Homo sapiens: one gene and its partners. The protein of the gene in region 2 purifies or fractionates together with the protein of the main gene of each other region. This does not show direct contact. Each region holds a gene or a part of one and is shown on either strand. Other genes may lie near its edges.

The links.
Region 1: the proteins of COPS4 (region 2) and DDB2 purify together in Homo sapiens (affinity purification with mass spectrometry; 9 studies listed by BioGRID and IntAct, with this or other methods). This does not show direct contact.
Region 3: the proteins of COPS4 (region 2) and CUL4A purify together in Homo sapiens (affinity purification with mass spectrometry; 7 studies listed by BioGRID and IntAct, with this or other methods). This does not show direct contact.

What each region holds. Positions count from the first base shown.
Region 1 is NC_000011.10:47,231,386-47,238,973, forward strand, and holds part of DDB2 (DNA damage-binding protein 2), read left to right. Parts: intron 1-1,428; coding exon 1,429-1,574; intron 1,575-3,187; coding exon 3,188-3,287; intron 3,288-3,371; coding exon 3,372-3,549; intron 3,550-3,884; coding exon 3,885-4,027; intron 4,028-6,451; coding exon 6,452-6,616; intron 6,617-6,752; coding exon 6,753-6,798; intron 6,799-7,414; coding exon 7,415-7,464; 3' UTR 7,465-7,588.
Region 2 is NC_000004.12:83,044,727-83,052,902, reverse strand, and holds part of COPS4 (COP9 signalosome complex subunit 4), read right to left. Parts: intron 7,278-8,176; coding exon 7,198-7,277; intron 3,738-7,197; coding exon 3,586-3,737; intron 3,023-3,585; coding exon 2,919-3,022; intron 1-2,918. UniProt on the Homo sapiens protein: Component of the COP9 signalosome complex (CSN), a complex involved in various cellular and developmental processes.
Region 3 is NC_000013.11:113,261,025-113,267,608, reverse strand, and holds the end of CUL4A (cullin-4A), read right to left. Parts: intron 4,690-6,584; exon of another isoform or gene 4,610-4,689; intron 4,123-4,609; coding exon 4,027-4,122; 3' UTR 501-4,026; downstream 1-500. UniProt on the Homo sapiens protein: Core component of multiple cullin-RING-based E3 ubiquitin-protein ligase complexes which mediate the ubiquitination of target proteins. As a scaffold protein may contribute to catalysis through positioning of the substrate and the ubiquitin-conjugating enzyme.

The sequences.
Region 1 (7,588 bases), on a different chromosome or scaffold from region 2:
TCAGCAATAAAATGAGATGAGCTCTTGATACAGCAAACTCAGATGAATCTCAGAGGCATGATGAGTGAAATGAAACAAGACAGTCTCAAAAGGTTGCATACTGCCTAATTCATTTACATGACATTCTATTTTTAATTTTATTTTATTTTATTTTTAGAGACAGGGTCTTGCTCTGTCACCCACGCTAGAGTGCAGTGATTCGATCGCAACTCACTGCAGCCTCGACCTCCAGGCTTCCGTCATCTTCCCACCTCAGCCTTCTGAGTAGCTAGAACCACATGCACCTACCACCATGTCTAAATTTTTTTTGTGTGTGTAGAGATGGGGTCTCCCTATATTGCTTAGGCTGGTCTTGAACTCCTGGCCTCAAGCAATCCCCCCGCCTCAGTCTCCCCAGGTGTTGGGATTACTGTGCTCGGTCTATAGGACATTCTATGAGGGCAAAACAATAGTGATGGAGAACAGATCAGCCAGGGGCTGGGGGCGAGGGGAGGGTGTGATTACAATGGGATACCACGATGGAGTTTTTGGGCTGTTGCAAATGTTCTGCATCCTGATTTGGGTGGTGGTTATTTAAGTCTATACATATGTTAAAATTCAGAGAACTTTATATCCCAAATTTGCTATATGTTAATTAAAAAAAAAAGTAAAAATAAAGCCTTAAGAAATGAAGGGAGGCGGGGCACGGTGGCTCACGCCTGTAATCCCAGCACTTTGGGAGGCCAAGGGTGGCGGATTACCTGAGGGCAGGAGTTCCAGACCAGCCTGGCCAACATGGTGAAACCCTGTCTCTACTAAAAATATACAATTTAGCCATGCGTGGTGGTGGGCACCTGTAATCCCAGCTGCTTGGGAGGCTGAGGCAGGAGAATCGCTTGAACCTGGAAGGCAGAGGTTGCAGTGAGCCGAGGTCGTGACAGAGCAGGACTCCATCTCAAAAACATAAAAATAAAAATAAAAATAAAAAAAAGAAAGAAATGAAGGGGCCAGACAAAGCGGCTCATGCCTGTAATCTTAGCACTTTGGGAAGCCGTGGCAGGGGGATCGCTTGAGCTTAGGAGTTCAAGACCAGCTTGGGCAACGTGACAAAACCCCATCTTAAAAAAAAAAAATAGAAAAATTAGCTGGGCATGGTGGCACGCACTTGGGAGGCTGAGGTGGGAGGATCGCTTGAGCCCAGGAGATTGAGGCTGCAGTGAGCCGTGTTTGTGCCACTGCACTTCAGCCTAAGTGACAGAGAAAGACCCTATTTCAAAGGAAAAGAAAAAGAAGTGAAGGCCCTGTAGAGAGCGTCCTAGTGTCTAAGCTGACCTGGCCCCAAGCGCTGCTCGAGGGGTGCTTCTGTGACGGCGCAGCATGTGTGCCCAGGCCTGGTTCCTCACGGCCAGGCCCATCATCACTCACTGGCTTTTTCCTTCCTCGTGTTAGATTGGAGCTGGAGGGAGCATCACTGGGCTGAAGTTTAACCCTCTCAATACCAACCAGTTTTACGCCTCCTCAATGGAGGGAACAACTAGGCTGCAAGACTTTAAAGGCAACATTCTACGAGTTTTTGCCAGCTCAGACACCATCAAGTGAGTAGTTTAACTAGCAGGGGAAAGGGCTTCTAAGCTTAGGTGTAGTTCCGGCAAGAGCATCCAGATCCCATTTCCTTAACCCAACCTGGCCCAGGGAAGAAAGGAAAGATGTCAGCCACTTTCCGCCCTTCTTTCTCTTTCTCAAACTGCTCCTTGGCTGCCCTCACTTTGGTCCAGGTGGGTTACTGCTTTGGGAAGGTGTTCTGGAGCCTCAGCTCTTCTGTAAGTCATACCTGTATTAGACTGGACCTTGACCCTCACTAGATAAGCCAGCATGGCGTGGACCCAGAAAGCCACCTAGAGAATGGAGCAACAGCTCAGAACTTGAGACTGAATGCCCTGCACTCACTGTGGTGTAATGACCTGACCTGTTCCTGGGTGGAAGCTTATATGGATGGAATCTTTTCCATAAAGTGCTCTGGACTTCCCAAGAGAAAGTGGCTGGAGAAATTACAGAATGCGGCCGGGTGCAGTGGCTCATGCTTGAAATCCCAGCACTTTGGGAGGCCAAGGTGGGTGGATCACCTGAGGTCAGGAGTTCGAGACCAGCCTGGCCAACATGGTGAAACCCCCATCTCTACTAACAATACAAAAAATTAGCTGGGCGTGGTGGTAGGCCCCTGTAATTCCCAGCTACTTGGGAGGCTGAAGCAAGAGAATCGCTTGAACCCAGGAGGCAGAGGTTGCAGTGAGCCGAGATGGCGCCATTGCACTCCATCCTGGGCAACAAGAGCGAAAATCTATCTCAAAAAAAAAAAAAAAAAATTACAGAATACTCGTCACTTTGATTTCCAGCTAGAGCCGTGACTCTGACTGCTCCCTGAGGAATTAAGTGAGGGTGCTGGGGTGTAACTAGCATTGGATTGGATCCTGGGCTGTCCCGCAGGGATGAGGAGTGCATGCGCACGCAAATCAGCAGGCAATTGGATAGACAAGGCTCCAGGCTACTCTTCCGCAAGAAATCTTCCTGCTTGAAGATATTCATAGGGGATGGCAAAAGGCAGTGTAGCATGGATTTGAGAGTTTGAGAGAAAAACTGTGAGCTGAGCTCTTCTGGCTGAATAGCAGGATCCCTGAAGCACCCTCCTAGTCAGCCTCCCAGTCCAGTGGTTTGAGGGACCAGAAGAGCTCCTGGTTGTGTTTTTTCCCCCAGTGTTCAGAAGGGGGCAGAAGTGCTTTTCTAGCCAGCTCTGAGGAACAGGGCCAGGCAATCCCTCTTTGGCTTGTGTCTCCTTTGGCCTAAAGGGTGAAGAGTGAAAGGAGAGAGCAGTAAAGGAGGCTTGCTCAGAACCCGGGGTGTGGGGGGCAGGCGTGCCTCAGGGCTTGCTTTATGGTATAAGCTTTGTCTGCTTCAGGGACTTTTAGGAGCTGGGGATCCTGGGCCCAGCCATAACCAGACAGATTTCTGAGCCCCATTATCCCATCCCCTCTGTCTGGACGGTAGAGCAGTCTGAATGTTCCTCACTAGGAATCCACGGCAAGACAGTTATTCATTCATTCAACAAATATTTATTGAATGCCCGCTGTGGGTTAGTCACCGGAGCGGCAACAGTGAGTAAATAGGACTATCTCTGTCCCCAAGAATCTTACAACACAGTCTCTCCCTCCAGCATCTGGTTTTGTAGCCTGGATGTGTCTGCTAGTAGCCGAATGGTGGTCACAGGAGACAACGTGGGGAACGTGATCCTGCTGAACATGGACGGCAAAGAGGTGCGTTCTCCGAGGTCCTGCCTTTCCCTCCCTCACCCCCACCTCGGTTCTGTGTCCCCACCTGAACCGAGCTCTTCTCTGCAGCTTTGGAATCTCAGAATGCACAAAAAGAAAGTGACGCATGTGGCCCTGAACCCATGCTGTGATTGGTTCCTGGCCACAGCCTCCGTAGATCAAACAGTGAAAATTTGGGACCTGCGCCAGGTTAGAGGGAAAGCCAGCTTCCTCTACTCGCTGCCGCACAGGCATCCTGTCAACGCAGGTGTGATATCCCAGACCTCATCTCTCCTGCAGACCCTGCCTGTCTGACCACTGCTGGGGTTTTCCCTCAGTGTGGAAGCCACTACGTCAAACCTTTACCCCTGATAGCGTCTGCCAAGCTGATGTCTGGGAACCTTTGTGGCTGTGGCTGTCCCCATCAGCTGCTGAGTTTCCAGAATTTTTTTGTTGTTGTTCACAGCCCAGATTCACCTCTTCCTTTCCGCTCCTGTCTAGAGAGGAGTGGGAGGGAGAGTACCCCTGCAGGAGAAGGCCTGCAAGGCCAGGACCACAGAGGGCTTGTGGTTCCTTCAGCTCAGGGGCTTTTCACTTTGCCAGCTTGTTTCAGTCCCGATGGAGCCCGGCTCCTGACCACGGACCAGAAGAGCGAGATCCGAGTTTACTCTGCTTCCCAGTGGGACTGCCCCCTGGGCCTGATCCCGCACCCTCACCGTCACTTCCAGCACCTCACACCCATCAAGGTGAGTGGCGGTGGGAAGGAGCTCGCAGAAGGAGGCTGTGATCATGAGGCCGGAGCAGGTCTGCCCACAGTGGGGAAGGGCTGATGTGGTAAGCCTGCCACCCCAGATCGCTCCTGGCCCGAGCACAGAGCATCTCTTACCCATTGGCTCTCTCTCTTCCTTTTATCCCACTTCTGCCATCCCATATGGTTGAGTTTTCTGTCTCGCTGATAAGATATTTTTCTGAGTTTTTTCAGCCCAGCTCTGATCTCACTGTGAGAATTTTCTAAGATCCTGACCCTCTGTTCTGTCTTCTCAGCTTCAGTTACCTGTGTACAGTTGACCCACAAACCTTCATTTTTTATTTTTTTATTATTTTTTTTAAGGCAGGGTCTCGCTCTGTCACCCAGGTGGGAGTACAGTGGGGCAAGCATGGTTCATTACAGCCTTGATCTCCCAGGCTCAAGCGATCCTCCTGCCTCACTTTTTTTTTTTTTGTAGAGACAGGGTATTCTTGTGTTACCCAGGCTGATCCTTTTTTTTTTTTTTTTTTTTTTTCTTGAAACGGTCTTGCTCTGTCACCCAGGCTGGAGTGCAGTGGCACAAACATAGCTCACTGCAGCCTCAACCTCCTGGGTTCAAGCAATCCTTCCGCCTTAGCCTCGGAAGTAGATTGGACTACAGGTATGCGCCACCATACCCAGCTAATTTTTTTATTTTTTATAGAGATGGGGTTTTGCCATGTTGCCCAAGCTGGTCTTGAACTCCTAGGTTGAAGCCATCCCCCAACCTTGGCCTCCCAAAGTGCTAGGATTACAGGCATGAGCCACTGCGCCTGGCAACTTTGCCTTCTTAGTTTGTCTTGCAGGTTTCAGTGCTTCTAATAATAAAAATAAGTCTTTTATTTTCCCACCTTTTCTCAGGCTCTTGTTAATAGCTTCTCTATCATTAGTCCCCAACACTAATAGCTTTCAAGTCCTTTGATGCCTTTTTGCCTAAGCCCCCATGCAGACTGAGCTCTGCTAGTTCTGCATTCTTTTCCAAAACTACAGATCCTCTTCAGATCTTCAGGTTTTATGCCTATACTTCTCTGGTCAGTTCAGAATAGTGGTGGGGAGCGCCAGTTTCCAGCAGCCAGACCCCCCGGGTTAGAATCCTTGGGCAAATTACTTATATTTTGGATCTGTTTCCTCATCTGCAAAAAGGGAATACTAGTCTCTAACTGATAGGGTTGTTGTGAAGATGAGTCAGTATACTTAAAGCACTTGGCCCCATGCCCAGCACCTGGTAAGTACTGGTAAGTATTCAATAAATGATGATTGAATATTGAGTGGCCCCCACGTACCTCAATCACATCCAAGCTCTTAATAAATAATGTCAAGAATCCTTCCCCAGTTGGTGTTCCTGTTAATCCATCAGTGTTCCCGATAATCCATCTGTCTGCATGTCCCAGTTTGTATCTAGCCAGGTGTCGTAAGTCATTACAGCTTCCTGTGTGTGATTTGTGACTTATTTCTAAGCCTTCGCATGTACTATTTCTTCCTTCCTGCTAACCATGTCTTTCTTCCTTCAAAACTTCCTTGAGAAGTTTAGGAAAATCCCATCCAATTCTGCCATTTTAATAACTGCCAGATTTGTTTTTAGTGGGGTGATCTGGGGAATGTGGGTTTCCTTCTCTTTTTTAGCCATTAGCAATTTTACACTCAGCTCTTAGTTATTCGTGTTGATGGAGACAGGATGACAGTGGGGCTCCTCCAGAACTCAAGTCCTGTTAGGGTTTGGTCACCAGAGGCTTTTTCTGCTTTGTTGTAGGCCTCTTAGGTCAGTATCTGGGTCAGGCTGATGTTAAAACGTTTACCAGTTGGTATGATCTTAGGAAATGCAAATGAGGGAGAAGGCCTGAAGGTGCCCTAAGGGCCAGGGAGGCCAGCTAGGGATTAAAAATGTGCAATGGCAGAGGCACACACAACCTAAAACCATTCTTGTAGTTTTCTGTAAGACTTATCTCCATTATTAGGTTGGCTTGTTACTGGCAAATACTACTTTTTTTTTTTTTTTTTTGAGAGTCTTGCTCTGTCACCTAGGCTGGAGTGCAGTGACATGATCTTCACTCACTGCAACCTCCGCCTCCCGGGTTCAAGTGATTCCCCTGCCTCAGCCTCCCAAGTAGCTGGGACTACAGGCATGTACCACCACGCCCAGCTAATTTTTTTTTTGGTATTTTTAGTAGGGACGGGGTTTCACCATGTTAGCCAGGATGGTCTCGATCTCCTGACCTCGTGATCCGCCTGCCTCAGCCTCCCAAAGTGTTGAGATTACAGGTGTGAGCCACTGCACTCAGCCCAAAGAATACTTTTGATGTTCCTCTTTGTTCATATTTGTTTTTGATGTCCCCCTTGATCATGTTCTGTGTTTACCCTCATGGCCGGCCTCTCCATCTCCTAGGCAGCCTGGCATCCTCGCTACAACCTCATTGTTGTGGGCCGATACCCAGATCCTAATTTCAAAAGTTGTACCCCTTATGAATTGAGGACGATCGACGTGTTCGATGGAAACTCAGGGAAGATGATGTGTCAGCTCTATGACCCAGAATCTTCTGGCATCAGTTCGGTGAGGCTTGGGTCCTCAAATAATGATGGGAGGAAGCAGGGATTCAACCTACCTTATTGACCAAAAGTGACCAGAAATCAGGTGTCTCTGCTAATACCTTCACCCTCTCCTCATGTTGACACTCTTGTCTCTGCAGCTTAATGAATTCAATCCCATGGGGGACACGCTGGCCTCTGCAATGGGTGAGTAGGAGGAGAATGTCTCTGACTTGCCAAGTCCGATCCTACTTCCCAAGGTTCAGTGCGGGCCAGCCTCAGCCCCGCCCTGCCACATTCACCCCAGGGCAGTGGCCCACGAAGAAGATGGCTGGGAGACAGTGGTCTCTATAGCCAAGGCCCTCCATTCCTCTGGCTTTGTCTTGGTCATGCAATGCCTGGCTACTGTCCAGTTTCCTAGTATTTCTTTTTTTTTTTTGAGACGGAGTCTCGCTCTGTCCCCCCGGGCTGGAGTGCAGTGGCGTGATCTTGGCTCAATGCAAGCTCCGCCTCCTGGGTTCACGCCATTCTCCTGCCTCAACCTCTCGAGTAGCTAGGACTACAGGTGCCCGCTACCACGCCCAGCTAATTTTTTGTATTTTTAGTAGAGACAGGGTTTCACCGTGTTAGCCAGGATGGTCTCGGTCTCCTGACCTCGTGATCCGCCCACCTCAGCCTCCCAAAGTGCTGGGATTACAGACTTGAGCCACCGCGCCCGGCCTTCCTAGTATTTCTTTACCAAATTGTAGGTTTGCGGGCCAGCCCCAGGCTCTGAGAGATTGGTAACAGAAAGTGTAAGTCAGACTGGTCTCACTCTTCCTAGGTTACCACATTCTCATCTGGAGCCAGGAGGAAGCCAGGACACGGAAGTGAGAGACACTAAAGAAGGTGTGGGCCAGACAAGGCCTTGGAGCCCACACATGGGATCAAGTCCTGCAAGCAGAGGTGGCGATTTGTTAAAGGGCCAAAAGTATCCAAGGTTAGGGTTGGAGCAGGG
Region 2 (8,176 bases):
AAGAATATTGAAGCAAGGCTGGGCATGGTGGCTCACACCTGTAATCCCAGCACTTTGGGAGGCCAAGGCAGGTGGATTGCTTGAGCCCTGGAGTTTGAGACCAGCCTGGGCAACATGGTGAAACCCCGTTTCTACTAAAAATACAAAAATTAGCCAGGCGTAGTGGTGTGCACCTGTAGTCCCAACTACTTGGGATGCTAGGAGACGGACACTGAAGTGAGCTGAGATCACACCACTGCACTACAGCTTGGTTGACAGAGCCAGACCCTCTCTCAAAACCAAAAAGCCAACAAAAAAAGAATACTGGAGCAATGCAATGAAAGAGTACTTACACAAATTCCACCACTATATCACTAATATGTCTACAGACATTTTTCTTGTCACAACTAGGAACAGCAGTACTATTGGCATCCAGCAATCAGAGGAGTGGTGCTGCTAAAACCTCCTGCAATACACAGGACAGCCCCCACAACAAAGTATCTAGCCGAAAACGCCAGTAGTGCTGAGGCTGAGAATCTCTGACACAGATGAACTACCCATATTCCTATCTAAAGCCTATCCCTCTGCTAGATTCCTTCCTCTCTTGTCTACTCCTGCAAGAATCCTCTCCCCAATTCCCCTATATCAAATTTTTGCTTTCTACTGGATCATAAAAGAAAAACTAATCCCTTAGCCTAACGTCTGCTGTCATCGTCTACCCTGTTTTTCTTCCTACCTTTTTTGAAAACTCCCCCACAGGGTAGCCCATACTCACTATCTCCACATCTTCTCTTCCCATTCTCTCTTAAACCATGCAATCAGGCTTTCACTATCATTTCACAAAACTCAGCTGGTTAAGGTTATCAGTGGCCTCTACACTACTAATGCCAACAGTTAACCTGTACTCCTTATCTTACTTGACCTATCAATGCCATAGCTCACCACCTGGCCCTTGATACATTTTCCTCATTTGGCTTCTAGGACACCACCCTCCACATTATTCTGATTTCCTTCTTACCTCAATGGATAATCCTTCTCATTTGCTACATCTTCCCCTGGTCCCAACCTCTTAACGTTGAAGTGCTCCAGGCCTCACTATACTCAGTCCTTTTGCCTATCTACATTCTCTCCTTTGGGCATCTCATCCAATCTAATGGCTTTAAATTTCATCTATATGTCAATAACTCCCAAATATGTATATCTAGTCCAGATATCTCTTCTAATCTCCAGACTAATACATTCAACTCCTCACTACATATTTCTACTTGGATATCATATGTCCAAAATGAAACTCTTGATATTCCCTACAAACCTATTCTTCCCCACTCCAACTTTCCAATTGCTCAGGCCAAAAATCAGGGCTTATCTTGACTCTTTTTTGCACACTCTACATACAAGCCATCAGGAAATCCTTACTCTACCTTAAAAAACATATCTAGAATTCAATACTTCTCACAACATCCACCTTATCTGTGGTACTGTATAAGCCTTTTTTAAAAAAGACAGGGTCTTGCTTTGTGCCCTAGGTGGGAGTACAGCAGTGCAATCATGGCCCACTGCAGCCTCAAATTACTGGGTTCACACAATCCTCTCGCCTCAGCTTCCCAACTACCTGGGAGTATAGATGCATATCCATACTATATCACCAGGCCCAGCTAATTTAAAACAAAAAAAAATTTTTTTGTAGGGATGGGGGGTGTTCTCAATATGTTGTCCAAGTTGGTCTCAAACTCCTGGGCTCAAGCGATCCTCCCGCCTCAGCCTCCCAAGTAGCTAGGACTACAGGCATGTGCCATCATGCCCAGCATTTTTTTTTTTTTTTTTTGGTGGAGATGGGGTCTAGCTATGCTGCCCAAGTGGTTCTCGAACTCCTGGGCTCAAGCAATCTTCTCCCACCTCAGCCTCCCAAAGTGCTTGGACCATAGGTGTGAGCCACTGTACCTGGTCTCATAAGCCTCTTAACCAATATCCCTACTTCTATCACTGCTTGCCTACAGTTTATTCTCAACCCAGTAGTGAGAGTAATTATTTAAAACAGAAGTCAGATCATTTCACTGTTTGTTCACAATTCTCCAATGGCTCCCCCTCATTTCACTTAGTGAAAAGCCAAATTCCTTACAATGGCTTATAAAACTCCACATAACCTGGTCCCCAGTACTCTCTACTCTCATCCCTGATCTCTTGCCCCTTTGCTCACTCTACTCTATCCACACTGGCCTCCTTGCTCTTATTAAGAAAACACTTCAAGCTTGCTCCCATCTTAGGGCCTTTGCACTAGCCATCTCCTCTAAGAGTATCTAGTGATGATATTCGGCCAGGTGCAGTGGCTCACAGACCTGTAATCCCAGCACTTAGAGAGGCTGAAGTAGGTGGATCACTTGAGGTCAGGAGTTTGAGACCAACCTGGCTAACATGGTGAAACCTAGTAAACATGGTGAAAATCTAGTAAAAATACAAAAATAGCCAGGTGTGGTGGTGCATGCCTGTAGTCCCAGCTACTTGGGAGGCTGAGGCAGGAGAATTGCTTGAACCCAGGAGGCAGAGGTTGCAGTGAGCCGAGATCATGCCACTGCACTCCAGCCTGGGCAACAGAGCAAAACTCCGTCACAAAAAACAACAACAACAACAACAACAACAAGAGTATCTGGTGATATTCTTTCCTCAGATCACTCTTAGCTACTCCCTTATCTCCTTCAAGTCTTTGATAAAGTGACATCAGGGCCACCCTACTACCCCAATCACCCTATTTAAATATACATACAACCTGTCCCCGCTTTGCCCCATTACTTTTCTCCACAGCACTTATCACCTTCTAACATACTACACAATTTTGTATTTATTTGTTTATCTGTTTCCTGTACTAGAATGTAAGAAAAAATATAAGTGAGCAATTATATACATCCTATATATAGTCATCCAATATCCACTATTTACTATACTTTTGTCCTGTTTCCAAAGGAATTCCCACCAACACTTGGGCTGCATTTCTCCAATCTTCTTCTTTCTCATATATAGATGCAAGATGCTGTCTTATGGAAGCAACCTGGAATAATAGGTATACATGTCAAATTATTTCAACTGACATTAGTAACTAATTAAAATAAATAGGAAAGTTATTCTAAAGTGGCAATTCAACATACTAAGCTGCCACGTAAACAGTAAACGTTTATCAAGACCACCCAAGTTTTCCTACGAATTTTGCATTTACAGAATATCAAACTAGTGAACGGAAGCAACACATTTCTGCAATGTGGATTATGGTACAATACTGTAGTTTAAACATTAAATTTAGCTTGTATGTTCCTGCATACACGATGCTGGAGTTTTCCTGTGTTTTCAGCTGAAATACCAATTTTACTGATTTTAAAAAATTGTCTAGAGAGCAATATTTGATTCACAAAATCAAATTTTACTTTATAAGCAAATGTCAGTTGGAGTTGTAACAACCTAATATTTACTTGATTTTGCATCATAAAATGTCGTTTGGCACACTGTTTTGTCAAAAATGAAATTGGATGATTATCTCCTTTAAGAATTTACTAATATCAGATTCTCAAAATAACTGCTGCTATCTCAAGTTAAAAAACCACTTCTCTAGATTTTTACCTGCTCCTCAAATGAAATGACTCTAGGCTGGATCTTTTCCAAGGTGAAGTGATAGATTTCTTTGGCTGTGCTATCAGGCAAGTTAGGAAGATGTGTGCAAAAATCAGTCAGCAACTGCCGCGAGATCACGAGACTGACATTCTCATTTACCACTTGTTTAAAAAAAAAAAAAAGATAAGAAAACATGAGCTGATAAATTGTCATTAAACAATCAACCTTTACTTAAAATTAATACTAACAACAATCTATATTAGTACAGCCTTCAATGCATTATTCAAGGATTTCCATACCCCTATCATTTTATATTACATCATCAGTTTTCCTTATGCTGAAATACTTGATTACACAATGACCACACAAAAACAGTAAAAATAGGCCAGTGCGATGGCTCACGCCTGTAATCTCAGCACTTTGGGAGGCCGAGGCAGGCAGATCACGACGTCAGGAGTTCGAGACCAGCCTGACCAACGTGGTGAAACGCTGTCTCTACTAAAAATACAAAAAAAAAATTAGTCAGGCATGGTGGTGGGCACCTGTAGTCCCAGCTACTCAGGAGGCTAAGGCAAGAGAATCGCTTGAACCTGGGAGGCTGGGGTTGCAGTGAGCCGAGATCACAGCACCGTACTCCAGCCTGGGCAACAGAGCTAGACTCTGTCTCAAAATTAATTAATTCATTAATTAATTAAAAAATCTTAAAAAACAGTAAAAATAACACAACTTTTCTAAGAAACAGAAATAATTGAAAAAAGTTTTAAAAGTTGATAATTTTATCTCATTTTTCTACAAAGTGAAGGCACAAAAACACCTATATTTTTATTTATGTGCTTATATCCTACCTTGTTCCAAAAAGGAGTTAAAAAAGAAAACAGTAAAATAATTTTCATGAAATTTAAATAAAGCAAGTGCTGCCAGTACAGTTATTGCCACTTATACTTTCCCAATAAAAACAATAAATAAGAACTTCAGTGAGCACTAGATGTATTGACATTATTTATAAACATTTACGAGGTATTATTTTATGTGATTAAGCTCTGGAGCCACACTGCTTCTACCACTACTGATTATATGACTTCAGACAAGAAACTTAACTTCTCTATGCTTCTCTGTGCTTCTGTTTCCTCATGTGTAACATCTATTTCATAAGGTTGTTATGAAGCTTAAATGCAATAATATACACAAAGCACTTTAAACAATACCTGGTACATAGCACTCAACAAATGTTACTATTATAACTATCATTTTAAATGCATCATTCTTGTAAACTATTGCTTAGATAAATTATTCAAGTCTTTTTTATTATTATTATTTTTTTTTTTTGAGACTGAGTCTCGCTCTGTCGCCCAGGCTGGAGTGCAGTGGCACCATCTTGGCTCACTGCAAGCTCCACCTCCCGGGTTCATGCCATTCTCCTGCCTCAGCCTCCTGAGTAGCTGGGACTACAGGCACCCGCCACCACGCCCAGCTGATTTTTTTGTATTTTTAGTAGAGATAGGGTTTCACCGTGTTAGCCAAAATGGTCTTGATCTCCTGACCTCGTGATCCGCCCATCTCGGTCTCCCAAAGTGCTGGGACTACAGGCGTAAGCCATGGCCCCGGCCAATTATTCAAGTCTTAAAGCAGCAGTTAATATGAAAATAAGTGATTCAAAAACTGTTCAGTTGATGTAAATGATTTTAACAGTAGACTGCTTTTCCTGGTGGTTTACTGGATTCAAAGCTTATACAAAGATCAAAAAATATATATATATATGTTTTTTAATTGTTTTTTTGAGACAATCTTACTGCTGCCCAGGCTGGAGCGCAGTGATGCAACCTCAGCTCACTTCAGTCTCGACCACCGGGGCTCAAGCAGTCTTCCCACCTCAGCGTCCCAATAGCTGGGACTACAGGCATGCATCACCACGCCAGGCTAATTTTCGTATTTTTTTGTAGAGACGAGATTTCTCCACATTGCCCAGGCTGGTTTTGAACTCCTGAGCTCAAGTGATCCCTTGGCTGGGTGCCATGACTCATACCTGTAATCGCAAAGTGTTGGGATTACAGGCATGAGCCACCGTGCCCAGCCAAGATCAAAGTTATAAAAAGCATTATTCTTCTGCTACTACAGTGCAAAGTTCTTAATAAACCACTCCTAACAGTTTTTTGGAAACCATTGCTAGTTTATCTCACACCGGAGGCCATGATTTTTTAAGGCAGTAACCTTTTAAGTTTTAAGGCAGTAACTTTTTAAGGCAGTATTTTTTTAAGGCAGTTGTAATTAATTAATCACATATTAATTGGAATTCATTATTGGGTAATACAGGATGTGACTGAGAAAACAGTTTCATTACAAGTGTCATTAGGCATTTAAGTTACCATACAAGCTGGTATTACTCAGGGAAATATAAGCAAGTAAGAGCAGTGTATCAGAAAACCTAGTTTCTGATCTGGGCTCTGCCAGCTAAATGTCCTTGAAAAAAAGTTACTCAATCCTGAGACTTGTCTTACAATATATTATACAGGGATACCTGTACCTATACGTTCTAGTCACAGGTTATTAAAAGGAGCCTATGTGACAGGTAATGTGTGTGAGAACACACTGTAAAGCACTATCAGATATCATTAATGATGTGAACTCACTATAAAATTCCATGTGAACTCACTATAAAATTCCTTAGGATAATGGCCTACAGACATATGCATGTTGCTGCACAGGACATGATTGTATTCTTTTTAATGTGTGCGTAGTATTTTATGGTGTATATGTGGCACATATTTCTATCCAATTTATTGATTCACACATAAGTTAAGTCCATGCCTTCCTTATTGTGAATAGCAATATGGCGAATATACAAGTGCATGTGGGGTTTCTTTTTGTGGAATTTTTAATTTTCTTTTGGATATATACTCAGTAATGGAATTGCTGGTTGAATGGTACTTCTGCTTTAAATTCTTTGAATAATCTCCAAACTGCTTTTCACAGTGGCTGAACTAATTTACATTCTCACCAACAGTGTATAAGCATTTCATTTTCTCTGAAGTCTAACCAGAATTTGTTATTTTTTTACTTTTTAATAGTAGCCATTCTGACTAATATTAGATGGCATCCCACATTGATTTGCATTTCTCTGATGATTAGTGATGTTGAACATTAAGAAAACAACCCCATTAAAACATTGACAAGGGACATAAGCAGACACTTCTCAAAGTACAGTACTGTACTACCCTGTAGTACAGTAATGTACTATAGAGTACATTTTAGGTACATTAGATGTACTACAGAGTACATTTTAAAGAGGAAAAGGAGGCACAGAGAGGTTAAATAATTGACCCAAGATCACACAGCTCATAAAATAGCATACCAGGATTTGAATCCAAACTATTCTCTTTACTATTATGCTATATTGTCCCTTATCAGCTATTATAACAATAAACATACAAAACTTTAATTAGGATTGTAATTCTGAAGATAATTCACTGAAAATTAATCAAGTTGTAAACAGTTTAAATTCTAAAATCAATCAATCTCAATGCATATTTAATATTGATAATTTGATACAAAACAAGGCTTGAGAGAACTTTAAAGTCCTAGCTCAGTAATACAAGGCAAGCATGAAATTTCCATTTCACTTACTTGCTTCCACAAAAGCTTTCAAAGCTTCTAGTTGTTCTGCTCCAGATAACTGAATGGCTTTTTCCAGGATCTGACGATACCTACAACAATACCAAATGAAAATAATGTTCTGAGGGTACTATATTTTCTAATGCAAACTTTGATGTGTATTTATTCATTTCTACATACCTTGGTTTCTTTCATAGTACTATAGTTTGTGGTTTTCTTTATAGTATACCACAGATTTTTTTTTAAGTTTCTAGTCTATCACAAGAGATATTAAATCTATAATTATATAAGGTACCACTTCATCTAGTTTTCAGTATAGTATACCAGAATTTTTTAAGTTTTCAAGCTCATCACAAGAAAGAATGAATCTATAATTCTGTTACTGAATCTAAGGTGTCACTTTTTCTTGAAGGTTTTATTTTTGAATTTAAACTACAAAGTCAATTTCCTTTCAAATGCCTTAAAAGATAAGCTATATTTCCTTCAACTGTGCAATACATAGACACACAAAAACATTATTTGAGGTGACCTGAATCTTTTCCTCTTACAGACGTAATGTATGTAGGGTCACCAGCAATAGGATAATGTTGACCAGGCAACGAAACCAAACATTAAAGACTGAATGTCTTAGTCTGTACAAAATAAACTTCGCCAAGCCAAATGCACTGATAGAATACCATTTATGCTGTCAGACAGTACCTATTTATTCTTTATTTGCATTCAGATCTAATAACTATTCTACCTAATATCTGTGACCACACAAGCTCCACGAGGACAGGAATTCTTGTGTTTTGTTCTCTGCTATGTAGACAATTATCTCAATTCTTGGCACATCATAAGCACTCAAATATTCAACGGTATTAGTAATGTTTTATTTCTTAACGAGTGGTTAGTATATGAGTGTTATACTATTCTTTTGTTGTTGTTGTTGTTGTTGTTTTTGAAGACGGAGTCTCGCTCTGTCACCCAGGCTGGAGTGCAGTGGCGCAAT
Region 3 (6,584 bases), on a different chromosome or scaffold from region 2:
CTGTTAACATTAAACTCATCAGTACTTTGTCGTACATTTTATCCAAGATGGTTCCAGTTTTTTTTTTTTTTTGAGATGGAGTTTTGCTCTGTCATCCAGGCTGGAGAGCAGTGGCGTGATCTCAGCTCACTGTAAGCTCCGCCTCCCGGGTTCACGCCATTCTCCTGCCTCAGCCTCCCCAGCAACTGGGACTACAGACGCCTGCCGCCACGTTGGGCTTTTTTTTTTGTATTTTCAGTACAGACGGGGTTTCACTGTGTTAGCCAGGATGGTCTCGATCTCCTGACCTCGTGATCCGCCCGCCTCAGACTCCCAAAGTGCTGGGATTACAGGGATGAGCCATGGTGCCCGGCAAGGGTTCCAGTTTTTTTAACCTTGTTTTCCCCCATGTTGACTTTAAAAGATGTCATTTAATGTCAATCCTTTTTTAAAAAAATCGATGTGAATTCACTAGATCACTTAGTGGAAAAACACAAATAAAGGGGCAACGGGTCCAAAAATCTTAGAAAGGAGGACTATATTTTTCTTTTTCTGAGTTCTATTGTACAGCATGGTGAATACAGTCAAAAATTGAGTATTGTACATTTCAAAATTGCTAAGAGTAAATTTCAGATGTTCTCACTACAAAAATGTTAAGTATTTGAGGTGATGGATGTAACTAGCTTGACTAGTCCACAATGTATGCATAATTTATAAGATCACTTTATACTCTATAAATTTATACAATAATAGTCAATTTACAAAAAAAGTATCTTATGATTATGGTTTCATATATATGTATTTTTTTACACGTAAATACTTGACCACTTGGAACTTCCCTTAGTATAAAAAGGAGTCTAATCCAACTTTTCTCTTTTCAAGGTGGCCCAAACTTCTGAGCATGGGTAGTTGTTGCAAAGTTCCAGTTCCTGATCACACACGGCCCCTTTGTGCCACGCCGAGTTCCTGTGTATTTGGCTTATTTGTGGACTTTCTTGTTCCAGGAATCTTTTTAAAGGGCCAGCATCATGCTGTTTCAATTACAATGTTCTAAAAACAGCAGAATTTAAAACAATTTGACTAGTCTGGCATATTTGCTTTTCTGTTTTAACTTTAGAATCCGCTTGTGTTTTAAAGGAAGGTTTTACATCTTAAGATACTGTATAGCAAAATGTGAGAATCAACAGAACTTTCACTTATTCAGGGCCTGTGTTCCTTAGTAATGTTATAATACCTTTCACATAGGTGTTTCCCTATTTGTTACTAGGTATTTTATCTTTTTTGGGGGTTGCTATTGAAAAAATGACTTCTGGTCAGGTGCAGTGTCTCATGCCTGTAATCCCAGCATTTGGGGAGGCTGAGGTAGGAGGTTCGCTTGAGGCCAGGAGTACAAGAACAGCCTTGGCAACATAGCAAGACACTGCCTCTATAAAAAATACAATAAAAATTATCTGGGCGTGGTGATGTACACCTGTAGGCCCAGCTACTCAGGTGGCTGAGAAGAGAGGATCGCTTGAGCCCAGAAGGTAGAGGCTGCCGTGAAACATGATCATGCCACTGCACTCCAGTCCAGGTGACAGTTAAGACCCTGTCTCTAAATAAAAATAAAAAATGACCCTCCATTATAGCCTATATTTATAGGAAAGCTACTGATGTTTTTGTTAATTTTGTGTCTGGTTAACTTGGTGAATTCTTTCTTCAGTCACAGATTTTCATTTGCTCCTTAGATGACCTGGGTATGCAACCATCTAACCTGCAAGTAATTTCACCTTCTCCTTTCCACTTTTACAGCATTTCTGTCTAAGTGCTGTTTCTTTTTCAATGATTTCTTCTATACTATTTGTTTTACCACACTGACCTTTAACAATAAAACATTAAATATTGCTAAATAAGAGAATAGATATAAATAGATTTTCCTTTCTTTTATAAAACAGAAACAGGCAGGCCGGGCATGGTGGCTCACGCCTGTAATCCCAGCACTTTGGGAGGCCAAGGCGGGCAGATCACCTGAGGTTAGGAGTTCAAGACCAGTCTGGCCAACATAGTGAAACCCCGTCTCTACAAAAATACAAATATTAGCTGGGCATGATGGCGGGTGCCTGTAATCCCAGCTACTTGGGAGACTGAGGTGGGAGAACTGCTTGAACCCAGGAGGCGGAGGGTGCAGTGAGCTGAGATTGCACCACTGCACTCCAGCTTGGGCAACAGAGCAAGACTCCACCTCAATTAAAAATAAATAAACTAAAATGGAAACAGGATCTCCCTATGGTGCTCAGGATGGTCTGGAACTCAGGCTCAAACGATCCTCCCACCTTGCCCTCCCATAGCTGGGACTACAGGCGTGAGCCACTGTGCTCAAATGAAACAAAGGCACAGCACAACGAATCGTCCAAGTAAAAAAGACCCACTTGTCACTACCTGGCCCCACTGGTATTTTGTGGTAGAGGTGGCCAGGAAAGAATAATCACTTGAGAGGGGACAGGTGCTCCCTGCTCTGACTTCTGTCTAGTGCACTAGTAGTCAAAGCTGCTAAAGAGTTATGAAGAATGTGTCATTTGCATATCACAAAGTTTTATTAATGTAATTTTAAGGCCAATTAAACTAATTTTATTCAAAGTAAGTCTACATTAAATTACAATATTAACAATCTCTAGACACAACGAACTTATAAGAAAAAAAAAATAGAAATCTGTTTGGTCTTTCTTAGACCACATATCATGGAACTCATAAATGAAAATTTTCAAAGATAGAAATGACAATTAAAGAGTGAGGATTTTAATATGGAAACCCACAAGGTGTCATATTTCAAACCCGCATGTTTCAAAAAGAGACTCTTAATAATTTAGCACAAAATCAAATTATATAAACTTGGTATATTCCAGAAAATATTGCTTTAAACACTTATGCCATGATCAAAATTCCTTTGGTAGCTTTTAATCAAAATGAAACATGCTATTATGTAAAATATAAAGTACTTTTAAATGTTATCTCAAAAGTATCTTTGTCATAGTTACCCTTCTAACATCACTACTGAACTTTCCTTTCACTGTTCAACCTCATGTATATATACACAACACAAAACCAGGTACCAACAAAATCCTTTTAATCTTTCCACAAAATAACCTCTGCTTCACAACATCAAGACTTTAAGTCTCCATAAACTTTTTACAGTTTACAGCAGAGAACAAGGATCGTCCCTGCGCATGACTGTAAAAACCAAACCAAACTTTATTATTGCAATCACACAAATACTGCAATTAAAAAAAATCAAAGAGCAGTTACCCCAATGCAAAAAAACAGGGACTGCCAGACTCAATCTTAGAATGGAAACACAAACACACTAGCCCCAAACCCTAAAACAGAGATTCACAAGGAACTCAGCTGACGAACAGACGCAGCAGGGCGGACACCATGGCCTTGGCACCTCAGGGAGCTCACTTAGAAACCTGACTTACGAAAAATCAGCCATCAAAGTTTACAACTTTTGGAAATACATGAAACAGAGAGGGGCCAGTGGCTAGGGTGCGTCATCCATTCGCCAGCTTTGAACCCTGGCTCTTTCTAATGTTCACCCATGAAGGGCCCTTGTTTTCACTCTAAATGCTGATCATCTGAGCGAGCTGTCTTCAGGGATACCTAAGGAATCTTCAGAGCTAAAAAATGCAGCATCTAGGGTCTTCTTCATTGTGCACTCATGATCACACACGAGAACAAACCAAACTTGCAGCTTTTTGACACAAGAACAAGACCTTTTAAAGGAACTTCTCTTTAGTAACATCTTCTTGTCCAATCTCAAAGTTATTTTGCACAGAGTAACAGAAACAATTTAAATGCCTAAAAGAACTAGAGGAAAAACTGGAGGGAAAAAGATACATCTGCAGGTTGAAGTCTTGAGCCTTGTGAAAGATGACCCAGGAGCCACCTCCCTTCCTTCGCCTTCCAATGTCCACAGCTGGATCAATCAGAGTCCCAGAAATGGCACAGGTGTGCTTCCTGCTCTGAGGGTACATTCTAGTGTTTCATGAAGGGGAACCGTCTGCAGATGCGTCAGGCCACGTAGTGGTACTGATTCGGATTGTCTTTGTCTCTCTCCATATAGTCTCTGTCTATCAGAGATTCAATTCTCTTTTTCAAATCTCCAGGCTAAAAAAGAAGAATAAAACCCCCCTAATTACAATGGCATTAAATTTACAAACATTTACATACAAGGGGTATATGCATGAAGTATGTAACTATACTTATAGAAATATATATACAAATAGATATTTATATGAAAATCATTTATAATTATACACATATTTATGAAATGAACAAAACTTTCTATTTTAAAGACAAAGTTAACGTTATCTCTTGATAAAAAAAGCGTCCATGTGAGTTTATGGTCAGAGTGTGGTTTCCTGAGGGAAACGTGAAACTTGTGAAATGTACATACATCATCTGCCATCAGTAAGGGCACGTATAAGCGAGGCAGATCCGACATCTGCCATCAGCAAGGGCACGTATAAGTGAGGCAGACCCGACATCTGCCATCAGCAAGGGCACGTATAAGCGAGGCAGACCCGACATCTGCCATCAGCAAGGGCACGTATAAGCGAGGCAGACCCGACATCTGCCATCAGCAAGGGCACGTATAAGCGAGGCAGACCCGACATCTGCCATCAGCAAGGGCACGTATAAGCGAGGCAGATCCGACATCTGCCATCAGCAAGGGCACGTATAAGCGAGGCAGATCCGACATCTGCCATCAGCAAGGGCACGTATAAGCGAGGCAGATCCGACATCTGCCATCAGCAAGGGCACGTATAAGCGAGGCAGATCCGACATCTGCCATCAGCAAGGGCACGTATAAGTGAGGCAGACCCGATCACGTGACACATTTTTATTTGAAAGGAAAATCTCAACATGTCTTACTGGGGCAACTTTTATCCTTTGAAAGGATGCTTCTGCCTAAGTAGTGTATTTTATTTTGTTTATTTATTTTGAGATGGGGTCTCATTTTGTCGCCCAGGCTGGAGTGCAGTGGTGCGATCTCAGCTCACTGCAGCCTCCACCTCCTGGACTCAAGCAATCTTCGTGCTTCAGCCTCCCCAGTAGCTGGGATCACAGGCTGCACACCACCATGCCTGGCTAATTTTATTTTTTGTAGAGAAGGGGTCTCACTATGTTGCCCAGGCTGGTCTCAAATTCCTGGGCTCAATCAATCCGCCTGCCTCAGCTCCCAAAGTGCTGGGATCGCTGGCGTGAGGCAGTGCGCCTGGCCTGTAGTTTTATTCTCGTGTATTTACATAGTTATTGCATGCCATGTCCACGTAAGTGAAACTACAATCCCCAGTGTTCCTGCACTAAGAGTAGGTGACTGAGGAGACGAATCCACAGCCACAGCCTGTCTCTGCCCAGAGGGAACAGCCACTCCAGCTCTGCTGTATTAGGAAGAAAATCTGTGTGAGCACTTACGTGCAAGGCTCTCCCTATACAAGGGAGACCCTCTATTTTCCAAACAAACTTCACCTTCTATTCAGTGATAAGCCACACATTTTACAAGATGTGGCTGAGGCTGGGCGCGGTGGCTCACGCCTGTAATCCCAGCACTTTGGGAGGTTGAGGCAGGCGGATCACGAGGTCAGGAGTTTGAGACCAGCCTGACCACACGGTAAAACCCTGTCTCTACTAAAAATACAAAAATTAGCTGGGTGTGGTGGCGCGTGCCTGTAAGCCCAGCTACTCAGGAGGCTGAGGCAGGAGAACTGCTTGAACCCGAGAGGCAGAGGTTACAGTGAGCCGAGATCGTGCCACTGCACTCCATCCTGGGGGACAGCAAGACTCCATCTCAAAGAAAAAAAAAACCCAACTACCCGAGAGCAGAGCGGGCGCCCTGGTCTGCCACACTCTACCCCTGAGAGCAGAGTGGGCGCCCTGGTCTGCCACTCTCTACCCGAGAGCAGAGCAGGTGCCCTGGTCTGCCACACTCCACTCTTGCTCACCTCTGCTTCGCGCTGGGCCTGATTGTTTGCAGTGGCAACAGGAGACTTGCTCCAGCTGGTGGGAGGAAGGGGCAGTGAACCTGATGGTGCTTTTGGAGCTTCCCAGGGCCCTGAGGACGGCACCTCACCTCTGCAGGGAAGGGGGCAAATGTGGGCTGATGGACAGTGGCACTTCCACCAGACTCTTAAGTGTTCGACTATTTAGTGCATCTCAACTTTATTCCCTTGATGGAATGGGAGGCTCAAACTGCACAACATGGAATCTGGGGACTTTCCCTCCAAAGCACGTGTGGCCGGTCCTGTCCCTGAGAGGCCAGGCGTCATCAGAGTTCAGTATTTCCTGGGTTGATAAATACATGTAAAAAACGTTTCATAATACTTTCCCGGCTTATCCTGCATCCCACACGTGGCAGGACAGTAAATCTCAGTTCTGAAAACAACGCGGGTTGACAGGCCTGGGCTGACTTTCATAAGCAACAGCAACAGTAGACTATTACCGTGGTGGAAAACGCGGTGTAGGCTGTAAACGCTGAGTAAGTTAGTTATTGTTATCATTTCCTTAAAATCTTGTGATGTAACCTTGACCGCTACTACTATGAGAAAAGTGTTCAGCTTTCCATGTCC